Regions from separate parts of the Homo sapiens genome. Here region 2 is linked to region 1. The links come from fine-mapping of genetic effects on gene expression. Tissue or cell type: whole blood. Region 1 holds a variant in brackets; the other region holds the start of a gene. All regions are shown on one strand. Distances are from middle to middle.

Evidence for each region. PIP is the estimated chance that this variant, and not a neighbour inherited with it, causes the effect.
Region 2: SERPINE2 starts here. The variant in region 1 is fine-mapped to the expression of SERPINE2 in whole blood (INTERVAL, PIP above 0.99).

The regions. Positions count from the first base shown.
Region 1 is chr2:224,013,639-224,018,788 of GRCh38, forward strand. All of the region lies in intron 1 of SERPINE2 (serpin family E member 2), which reads right to left. All of the region lies in intron 1 of LOC124907990 (a long non-coding RNA gene), which reads left to right. Among named protein-coding and RNA genes, the nearest start is that of SERPINE2, 23 kb to the right of the region's middle. RefSeq lists an enhancer at 1,450-1,949. The variant T/C (reference allele first, on the strand shown) is at 2,143.
Region 2 is chr2:224,036,475-224,041,624 of GRCh38, forward strand. SERPINE2 (serpin family E member 2) reads right to left here and starts at 2,812. Exons shown (of 9, transcript NM_001136528.2): 1 at 2,625-2,812. It overlaps LOC124907991 (a long non-coding RNA gene), which reads left to right and starts at 2,928. Exons shown (of 2, transcript XR_007088103.1): 1 at 2,928-3,068. RefSeq lists a silencer at 2,978-3,272.

The DNA.
Region 1 (5,150 bases):
TTTCCTGAACCTGAATGATAGAGCTGGCTTTGGCTTAGGAAGAAAAAGGCAGCCTGTAAGGAGTGACCAGGCGGTAGGTGGGGAGGACTGGTAATGTCATCCACGGTTCCCTACTGCTGCTTTGTGGGTTTCAGGAGGTGCACCGTGTCAGGAGGCTGGGGCTCCTCTATTCCTGCAGAGGAACAGCTGCCCAGTCACTCAGCCTGGGGTTCACACCTTCCGCAGTGCTTGTTGCAGGAGGTTCAGTGTAGTGTGTGCATGTCCACCTCCAGCTGCCAAACTTCTCAACAGGATGTAGATGAACCTGGGCTGACAAATTGGATAAGGTGGGCTGGCAGGCCAAAGCTTCAATTACCAGTACCACATCCTTTCCCTTCTAGGATACACAAAAGTAACTGGCCTCATTCCTTCCTCTCCCAAATAGAGAAGCCTTGGCTTGAAAATTCCAGGGAGTGGCCATGCGAGGTGGCTCATGCCTGTAATCCTAGCCCTTTGGGAAGCCAAGGTGGGTAGGTCACTTGAGGTCAGGAGATCGAGACCATCCTGGCTAACACAGTGAAACCCCATCTCTACTAAAAATACAAAAATTAGCCAGGCATGGTGGCGCACACCTGTTATCCCAGCTGCTCAAGAGGCTGAGGCAGGGGAATCACTAGAACCGAGGAGGCAGAGGTTGAAGTGAGCCAAGATCATGCCACTGCACTCCAGCCTGAGCAACAATCAAGACACTGTCTCAAAAAAAAAGAAAAAGAAAAAAAGAAAAATTCCAGGGAGAACCACTAGGTAAATTGGTATCAATGCAGTCATTGCATTGATGAGAAACAGTCTAGGACTTCAGACGGAGACTCTGATTCTAAACTAAGGAAAGTCAGAGGGAAAGTCAGAGGGATCATTGTGTGGCGCCTGGGGCGAGAGTGGGAATGTGTGTTCTCTTGTGCCCTAGAGCAGGCTTTCTTTATCTCGGCACTACTGACATAACTCTTCAGTGTGGGGGCTGTCTTGGGTACTGCATAAGGAAACCCATATCCACCTGAATACAGAAGACTCTAGATTCTCCTGGGTCTCAAGTGCCCAACAAAACCCACTTTGTTCCTTTGAAGTCAGGGTAGCATTTCCAAGGCTGCCGTGTAAACAAGTGTCCCCTATTAAGTTGGTTTATCCCTTAATTTATCCTACAAATATTAATGAAGCACCACAGTGCCAGGCCTGGCGCTGGGATGCTAGAGAGAGAATAGGCATGAAAAGGGGCTTGGTACCTGCCCTCCCACCTCTCAGAGTCTCAAGGCATGGTTCTCCACCTGGGTGACTCTGTCGCTCAGGGAGCATTTGGCACTATCTGAAGACATTTTTTTTGGTTTTCACCACTAGGTGGGGGCCAGGGAGGGTGGTGCCATGGCATCTGGTAGGTGGGGGCCAGGGAGGGTGGTGCCGTGGCATCTGCTAGGTGGGGGGAGGCCAGGGGTGCTGCTGAGCAGCACCCACAATGCACAAGACAGCCGCCTGCAACAAAGAATTATCCAGCGAAATGTCAGTAGTGCCAAGGTTGGGGAAGCCTGGTCTAGAGGGGAAACAGACCTTAATCAAATCGTCTTATTACTTGATATTTACTTTCATTTTCACGTATTTACTTTACAAATGCTCTGACATCGAGGAGAGTGTGTAAGAATGGAAGCAGAGGCACACCTGGGCCAGGGTGAGAGGCAGTGGCCAGGGAAGTGCTCCTGGGAAGGGCCACATGGGCAGACATTGGAGGATGGACTGGAAGTGACTGGACAAAGGGGCGGAGAGATGGAAGCAAGGAAGAGTATTCCAGACAGAAGCTCTCAAGTGCAAACAAACCTTGTGTTGGGAGGTACCATGGATTATTCTGGAAATATTTTTCCTTTCATACCATCATCACCTTACAGCCTTTGCAAGACAAGGGCAACTCTGTGTCCATGACTCCAACAAATAGGCAGCTCATCAAGACATACTGCAGAACCCAACCGGACAGAAACTGGAAGAATCATTCACACTCCAGTGTCTATCTTGTTCCATGGCTCTCTTTCTCACCACCCGGCACTGCGCATGACAACAGGCAGGAATCAAAACCCTAAGTTGACATTAAAAGCCTGAGTTTCATAAAACGAAAAACTGATAAAC[T/C]GAAAAACTGATCAATTGGACCTCATCAAAATGAAAAGTTTTACTCTGCAAAAGATCCTGCAAAGATGATGAAGAGACTAGGAGAAAATATTCTCCAATCACGTATCTGTCAAGGGACTAGTATCTAGACTACACAGAAAACTCTTAAACCCCAACTGTAAAAAAAAATCGGATTAGGAAATAAAAGACATGGATAGATATTCCATTAAAGAGGATGTATAAATGGTAAATACGTCCATTAAAAGATGTTCAACATCATTAGCCACTGGGGAAATCCAAATTTTTAAAACCACAATGAGATGTCACTATATGTCCAGATGAATGGCTAATACTAGTGACAACACCAATTGCTGGTGAGGATGCAGAGAAACTGGATCACTCACACATTGCTGGTGGGAATATAAAATGGCACAGCCGCTCTAGAAAACAGTTTGGTAGGTCAGGTGCAGTGGCTCACGCCTGTAATCCCAGCACTTTGGGAGGCCGAGACAGGCGGATCACCTGAGCCCGAGGTCATGAGTTCAAGACCAGCCTCACTAACATGGTGAAACCCTGTCTCTACTAAAAATATAAAAATTAGTCAGTCGTCGCGGCAGGTGCCTATAATCCCAGCTACTCGGGAGGCTGAAGCAGGAGAATCGCTTGAACCCGGGAGATGGAGGTTGCAGTGAGCCGAGGTTGTGCTATTGCACTCCAGCCTGGGCGACAAGAGCGAAAGTCCGTCTCAAAAAAAAAAAAAAAATAGTTTGGTAGTTTCTGTTTATTATTTATTTTTTTTTAATGTAAGTTTGGCCGTTTCTTACAAAACTAAACATGCACTTAACTGTATAATCCAGCAATGCTGGACATTTATTAGAGAGAAATGAAAATCATTTCACATAAAAACCTGTATACCAATGTTCACAGCAACTTTATTTTTTAATAGTCCCAAAGTGGAAACATCCCAGATGTTCTTCAGTAGGTGAATGGCTAAACTGTGGTACATCCACACCACAGACTACTACTCAGTAATAAAGAGAAATAAACTACTGACACACAAAACAACTTGGTTGGATTTCAAAGAACTATGCTGAATGGAAAAGCCTATTTCAAAAAGATGCATAGTGTGTAATTCCATGTATATAACATTGTTGAAATGACAAAGGTGCAGAGATGGAGAATAGATCAGTAGTCACCAGAAGTTAGAGAACAAGAGAGGGAAAGGGATGTGTGTGACGATAAAAGGGAGGCATGAGGGGTCCCTGTGGTGGAAATGTCCTGTATCTTGCCTGTGGTGGTGCCCACACAAGTCCATACATGTGATAAAACTGCATAGAAGTAAATGCACACACCCCAGTGAGTACCTGTAAACCTGGTGAAATCTGAATAGGGTGGGTGGATTGTGTGATGTCAGTTTCCTGGTTGTGGTACTGTACTACAGTTATGCAAGATAATGCCTTTGCAGGAAACCAGGTAAAGGGTACACGAGAGCTCTCTGAATTACTACTTTTTTTTTTTTACGACTGCATGTGAATCTATATAACTATCTCAAAATAACAACAAAAAAACCCTACTGTAAAATTTTAGTCAGCAAACAAATGCCAATGTACCTTAAGACAGATCTTTTTATTTCTTACTTTTTCCCTGTACTGCAAATGTACAATCACACAAAAATGTAATATTTTTGGTCCTTTCAAAAAGAATAGCTACAGTTTTAGGGTGCTTGCATAATTGTACATTCTCATAATTATTTGACTTATAACAGTATTAATTCTTATTCTATAAGAAATTAACAAAAGGATTTAGGACACTATACATGGCCCCTGCAGGTTCCTAAGACAAACCACCCAAGTTCAAATGTCACCTCCACTGCCAATTATCTGTATGACTTTTGACAAGTGCTAGCCTTCAGTGTGCCTCAGCTCCTCCATCTGAAAATCGGTGTAATAGTAGTTCTTACTTTAAGAGTTGTTATAAGGATTTTAAAAAGTACTATGTCTCAGGTTCTTAGGACAGTTCTTGAGGCCCCACTCGAAGCTGGCCTCTGCTGTTACCCCATTTACCACCATCATCACGAAGGCCTGGGGTCCTCTCTTCAGGCTTTGAAGGCCTATACTACAGTCCAGCTTAACATTTCCTCAAGGGCAAAATGTTCAAATATTATAATTTCTAAAAATCAAAACACATGTTTAAAGCTGCCTTTAAGACTTGTGGTCTTTTTTCAATTTCCTTTATTTCTTTGTTATTAGAGGGAGTCAAGGGTCTCTAGTATGTGACTTTATCAGACTTTCACATCTGGTCACAGGTCCTCAGGGAAGGTGACTTGAGAGGCCTTGCCCTCCCCAGGGGAAGCAGCTCAGCCCTGTGACTCCATCGACAGCCCTGATGATGGGCTTAGGAAATGATTGATGGTCACTGGCGACTGAGGAAATGGGCGTCAGGCTCTGGCGATTTTCCTTGTGTTCTTTCCAAGGCTGCCAACCTCATGAATAAGGAAGTGTTTTCCTACCAGCCTGAAACTGAAATAGGGTGGGATTATACTAACATAATTCTTTAAGAAGTTTTAGTGTGTTAAAGCCAGACCAGCCCTGCCTCAGTGGTCAACACATTCCATGATAGAAGTCTAGAGTTTAGGCCAACTCTCATCACAGTTTTGTTTAGATGGATGAAATACCTCATATAGAAAATGCTTGATCATTGCTCAAAGAGATCGTTTAGAAATAAATCTGAGCTCCACTGGAAAGCCTGTAACAATGGTAACTGGAAGATGAGGTAATCCAGGAGAAAAACCCTCCATTTTTGCAAGCAGACTCTAAAACACAGTACTTCTCAAAAAAAAAAAATAATAATAAAATAATAAAAGGGGTAGAAAGATATATAGAAGTCCCTTTATCATAGAAAACCAGGATGAGAAGAAAAAGTACTCCTCACCCCAACCCTGCTGTTCTCCCAGGTTCTATATCTTTCTAAGTGACACCACCAACTGTTCATCCAAGAACCTAAGCCAAAGTCTGGAAACTGTCCTTCAT
Region 2 (5,150 bases), 23 kb after region 1:
CTGTGGTGGGGGGCGGGGAGTGAGGTAGGGGAGGGATAGCATTAGGAGAAATACCTAATGTGATGGGTTGATGGGTGCAGCAAACCACCATGGCACGTGTATACCTATGTAACAAACCTGCACGTTCTGCACATGTACCCCAGAGCTTAAAGCATATTAATAAAAATTAAAAAAAAAAAAAAAAGATTGCTTGTTCAGGAAGTCACAGGCCTTGAACTTTGAGGAGACTCTGGCCAGCTTGCAAAGAGCTGAACAGGAAGGGCAGACCAGTTTAAGAAGCCTGGAGAGACGTGGTTGTCACTACAGGTGAGCTGAGGATGCAGGGACAAGGGAGGTTAAGGCATTCTTAAAATACTACTAAAAAAGAAAAAAGCTCACAGGGAGAGACTGAAGATAAAAGTAAGAAAAGGGAGTAACACTCACAAGGAGAGAGAGGCACTGGGAGTTGGGATTCAGGACACAGCTGGAGACATTAGTCACTGCCCCAAGGAGGCCATCTCTCTATATTTCTCTAAGTTCTCAGTCTAACTTGATTTTTCTTTATAATTCTACCTTATTCATTTATCATACATTTTACAACATATTATGTTTGCTTTTAGTTGGTTTTCTCCCACAAGAATGACAGTTTCAAGCGAGCAAGGATCTGCTCTATTTACCACCTATGAGTATCCAACAAAGTACCCAGACACAGTAGATGCTTAAGAAGATTTATTGGATGACTGGGTAAACACAGAAAAGTCTGTACAGGGGAGATGGGGGAGGACGTGAGGAGATACTTATGACCTCTATTCTCCTGGTAGAATGGGCTACAAAGTCACCTGCCAAACCCGCAAGAGGAAAAGCATTGGAGATCGCTTGCATTGAAGATTACAGTGGGAGTCCGGTTTGCAACCCGGAAGGAAGGAGCTTGCGGGTTGGAGGCACTAAGAGTTTTCAGAAGTTGAGCATCTCAAGAGAGGGCAAGACTTGGAGGTACTTAGAGGACTTGGTAGCTGGAGTACATGGAAGACACTGGATTTGAGACAGTCAAGGAAGTGCGCATCTAGAGCGTCCCCCACATGGACTTTAGGTCTAGAGGAGGAGAAATAGCCCAAGAGCCAAAGTCCCCATGCGATGGGAAAAGAACTGGCTGGAAGAGGACAGCAAGGCTGAGATGCACCCAGGGACGTGGCCAGGTCACCACCTCATTTCCAACTCTACCACCTCAAACAATCTCTGACTGGTATTTAATCACCCTTGTGTGGAAGTGAAAATTAGCTTTTTTTGGAGACAGTACTTTTAAAATTAAACTAATATGAAGTTCATGGGACACGGAAATTTTCTGCATAGATTCATTTTTGTTTTTAGAATAAAATACGATGACATTTTCATGACCTTCAGTAATTGCCCTGCATGGTACGATATTTTCAAACATTATTTTAACAAAGAATCAAAATTTGGGGGTTAAAAGAAACCTTAGATTACTCAGGTTAGTACCTTCATTTGCATAGCCAAAAATTTTTCTATTGAAATACTGCAAATAGCAAATAAGTACTGATTTAGACCTTCAGATAGTGTTGAAACTGTCTTCAATTTTCGAAGTGTGGTTTAGGATATACAAATTAGCAATGTTGACAATTCTTCCAGTTATCTGTGCTCAAGTTTTGATATAAAATCTTCAAAGTACACAATTATCACATATATTGTTCCACAACAATTCAGACAAATAAACGGCTTCTTGGCTTGAAAGAGGAAGTCACACCTTCGAACACCTTTTTATGCTGATGCTAAATATAAGAACGTCCCCTGCAAAGTAGCCAAAGCAAGACAGCAGCATTCGAGATTTCTCCAGAGACACACACACAAAGAATGTGTTTCGTTCATTAAAACACTAAAACCTTCAACAGCATCTTCCATAATACCTGAAGGTGGAGTGCTGTCTTATGTAATAGAAGCCTTCCTTCCCCGCTCAGTTTGTGGACACATTAAATGCCTAATTCCTTCCAGAATTTCTGAGTACCGTACTTTCATTTTACCTGCAGTCACTCATCCGCCTCGCAACTCCCGTTTCTACAGATGATGAAAATAGCAAAGACCTGCTCGCTCGGGTTAAATCGGCTGCCAGAGGCCAAGTTAAAGGCTTTCCCCACACCGCGCGTCACCTCCCTCTGCCCAGGCAGAGGTAACAAGTAAGAGTGCGCCAGTCTCTCCCCATCCGGCGGCGCGCAGCCTAAGTCCGGGGTAGGGGTTGCCGGCGAGCAGCTGGAAACCTCAGGTTCAGGGTCAGGGCCGGCTCGGATGGCCGGGCAGGAGCCACGCCGGCCCCGGTGCTCCCAGCTGCGGGTATCACTGGACGCCACCCCGGGGCGGCCCCGCCTTGCCCTGCCCGGGTCCCGCTCGGGGCTCCCGGCGGGCGGGACCGGGATGCCCGGCGAGCACCCAGCCCCGGCCAAGGCGGCCCGCGGGAGGCTGAGAAAGTTCTCTGCTCCCCGACGTCGGCGCCCCAGGGTCCCGCTGGCCCCGCAGCTTCCCGGCCGGGCGCAAGGTCAGGGAGCAGGGCCGGTGGCGCGCGGAGCCCCGGGGAGCGTCCCCCGCCGAGGGCAGCGCCGGCCGCGCCCGGGACTCACCGCGCAGCCTGTACTCACCGCGCTCGCTGGATCCCCAGGGGGCGGCCGCGGAGGGCGGTGCGGCCGCAACCGGAGCGGGAGCCTGGTCTCGGCGGCGCGGGGAGTCGGAGGACGCAGCCAAGCGGCGGCGGCGAGGAGGGTCACAGCCGGAAAGAGGCAGCGGTGGCGCCTGCAGACGCCGCGCAGCCCGGGCAGCCCCACAGCGCAAGCTGGCTGCCGCGGCGGCGGGGGCTTTATCGGCGGCGCCGCGCGGGCCCCCGCCCCTTCCTGCCGCCCCCGCCCCCGGCCCGCCTTGCCCCGCCTTCCCGCCGCCTCCTTTGTGTGGCCGCGGGCCGCAGCGTCCCCGCGCCCGGCCTCCAGGACGCCCCCTCTCCGCCTGCGACTTCTCGGATGCCGCCCCGCCAGGGGTCCGTGTCGTGGGGCTGCGCCCGGAACGCGCCGGGGAGACGCGCAGACCCCGAGGTGCGGCGCCAGCCCGGGCCCAGCTGCACGTGGGTCTCCCGGATGGGGGTGTGTGAGGTGGCGGGGGGAATACCAGGGCTCGTACCGCGTCCCTGAGACGCAGGGCATGTCGTCTTGGCTGCCCCCTGGAAGAGACAGAGGGCGCCCTGAGACAGCGCTCAGTCCTCCGGGTGATGGGGAAACGGTGCCAGGACGCGGCCGGGAAGGGGCAGATAACCCCTCGAGGCGTTTTGCAGGGTGTCCTAGAGCTGACTTCTCCCTGCCTAGGGGACAGAGGAACGGCGGCAAGTCGCCTTAGGCAAATACAGACGAGGGGAACCAGAAAACTGGATTCCCGGCTATGGTGATAGCATGAGGTACCCGCAGCGTCCTGGGAACCCAGCCCTTCTCAGCCGGTAACCACTGCTGCTGGGACCCGGTGCGCGATAGACAGGCACATACCCCAGGGGCCTGCAACAAATGACCGTCCCGCTCCGGGCTCTGTTACCTGGACCTCTCTTAGTTGGTTCCTCCTTTGCCTCTAGTTAGGTTTCTGGGGACCCAAGGACCCAACTTTAATGACAGTAATTTATGTAGCCGTTAGTGTAGAATCGTCGCTAGCAGGCAGACGGCCCCAACAGCGAGGAAGAAATGTAAATCTCCCTATACACAGCCCTGGATTAAGGGTACAGCTACTGATGAGAGCCACTTGGAAGATCAGCCTGCAGTCACCCCTTGGCATGCAGGTGGCCGTGCCAGAGTGTGCACGTGTGTGTTGGGGAAGGGGTTGCTCTGAAAAGTGTAAAATCTGGACCAGCCTAAGGGTGTTCTCAGTCTCTCATAGAGGGAAACAGGCTATGGGAGGCTTGGTCCTAAAATAAGGAGCAAACAGTCTACAAAAATGAGCATCTGTTTAATTATTTTACAGTCATACCAAATATTTATATTCAGTTACAGGGTAACTTTCTTATTCTCTGTGCCTGAAATGCTTTTTGTCCCAGGATCTTCTATGTTGTCTGCATCCTTACACTTGAGGTCACAACTCAAATGTCCTCTCCCCTAGGAAGCCTCCCCTGACCACTTGAGATAAAGTCACTTTATCCCCTCTAACCTATGACTTCCTTCATAACCCTCATCATGAATTGATTTTTTTTTTACCTTGTTTCTTGCTAGTTTTCTTCTACTCTCTCTCATTGGAATATACTCCCAGAGACCAGGGAAGAGAAACTAATTTCAATATTGTTTCCAACTCACTCTATCCCTAGTGCCTAGAGCCATACCACACATATAGCAGTTACTCAATAAATTTTGTTGACGAGTGGATGAACTACTAGCCAAGTGACTTTTAGACATGCTAAGAACTGTTTCAGTGACAGTATTGTGCTTGGTCCAGTCAGGGCGGTGTGGGCTGGAGCTGGGAACAATTCAAAGGAGGGGGGAAAGCCCACAGGTGTGAATGAGCTCGTTCAGTGTGTTTGAAAAGCTGGGAGTATCCTCTTCCAGATGGAAGGGAGTCATTCAAGAAACTACTGGAGAAATAACTGGGAAATGTGGGTGAAGCCAGATTATTATGAAAATGTGCCAGAATCCCTGCATCCATTTCTGTCTCAATCACATTTCTAAATTAAAATTTGTAATAGAGGTAATTGTAGGCTGGCATGCAGTTGTTAAGAAATGATTCAGAGAGGTCTCTTTTACACTTTGCCAAGTCTTCCTCATGGTAACATTTTGCAAAACCATTGTATAATATCACAATCAGGATATTAACATTGATACGTTGATTCCTATCTCACACACTTTGGTTAATTATGTGTAACTTTAAATTTTTACTAAAGTTACTCAAACCAGTGAGAGAAATGCACAAAATTACTATTTTGAAGAGTTTCAGTCTCTTGTCTTGAAGGAGCCAATGTTTTTCAAGAAAAAACAACAACAAGCCTTTTTTGCTTTCCCAATTAGAGTGTAAATAGGGTCCAAATTCTTCATCTATGAAAGACGTTAGAAGTCCTTAGGACTTACCTCTTTGGGTTACACTTTAATGACTGACATTTACTTCCCCATTCTTTCCTGTAGTGTCGAAGGAACATTTTGAGCAATACTGTA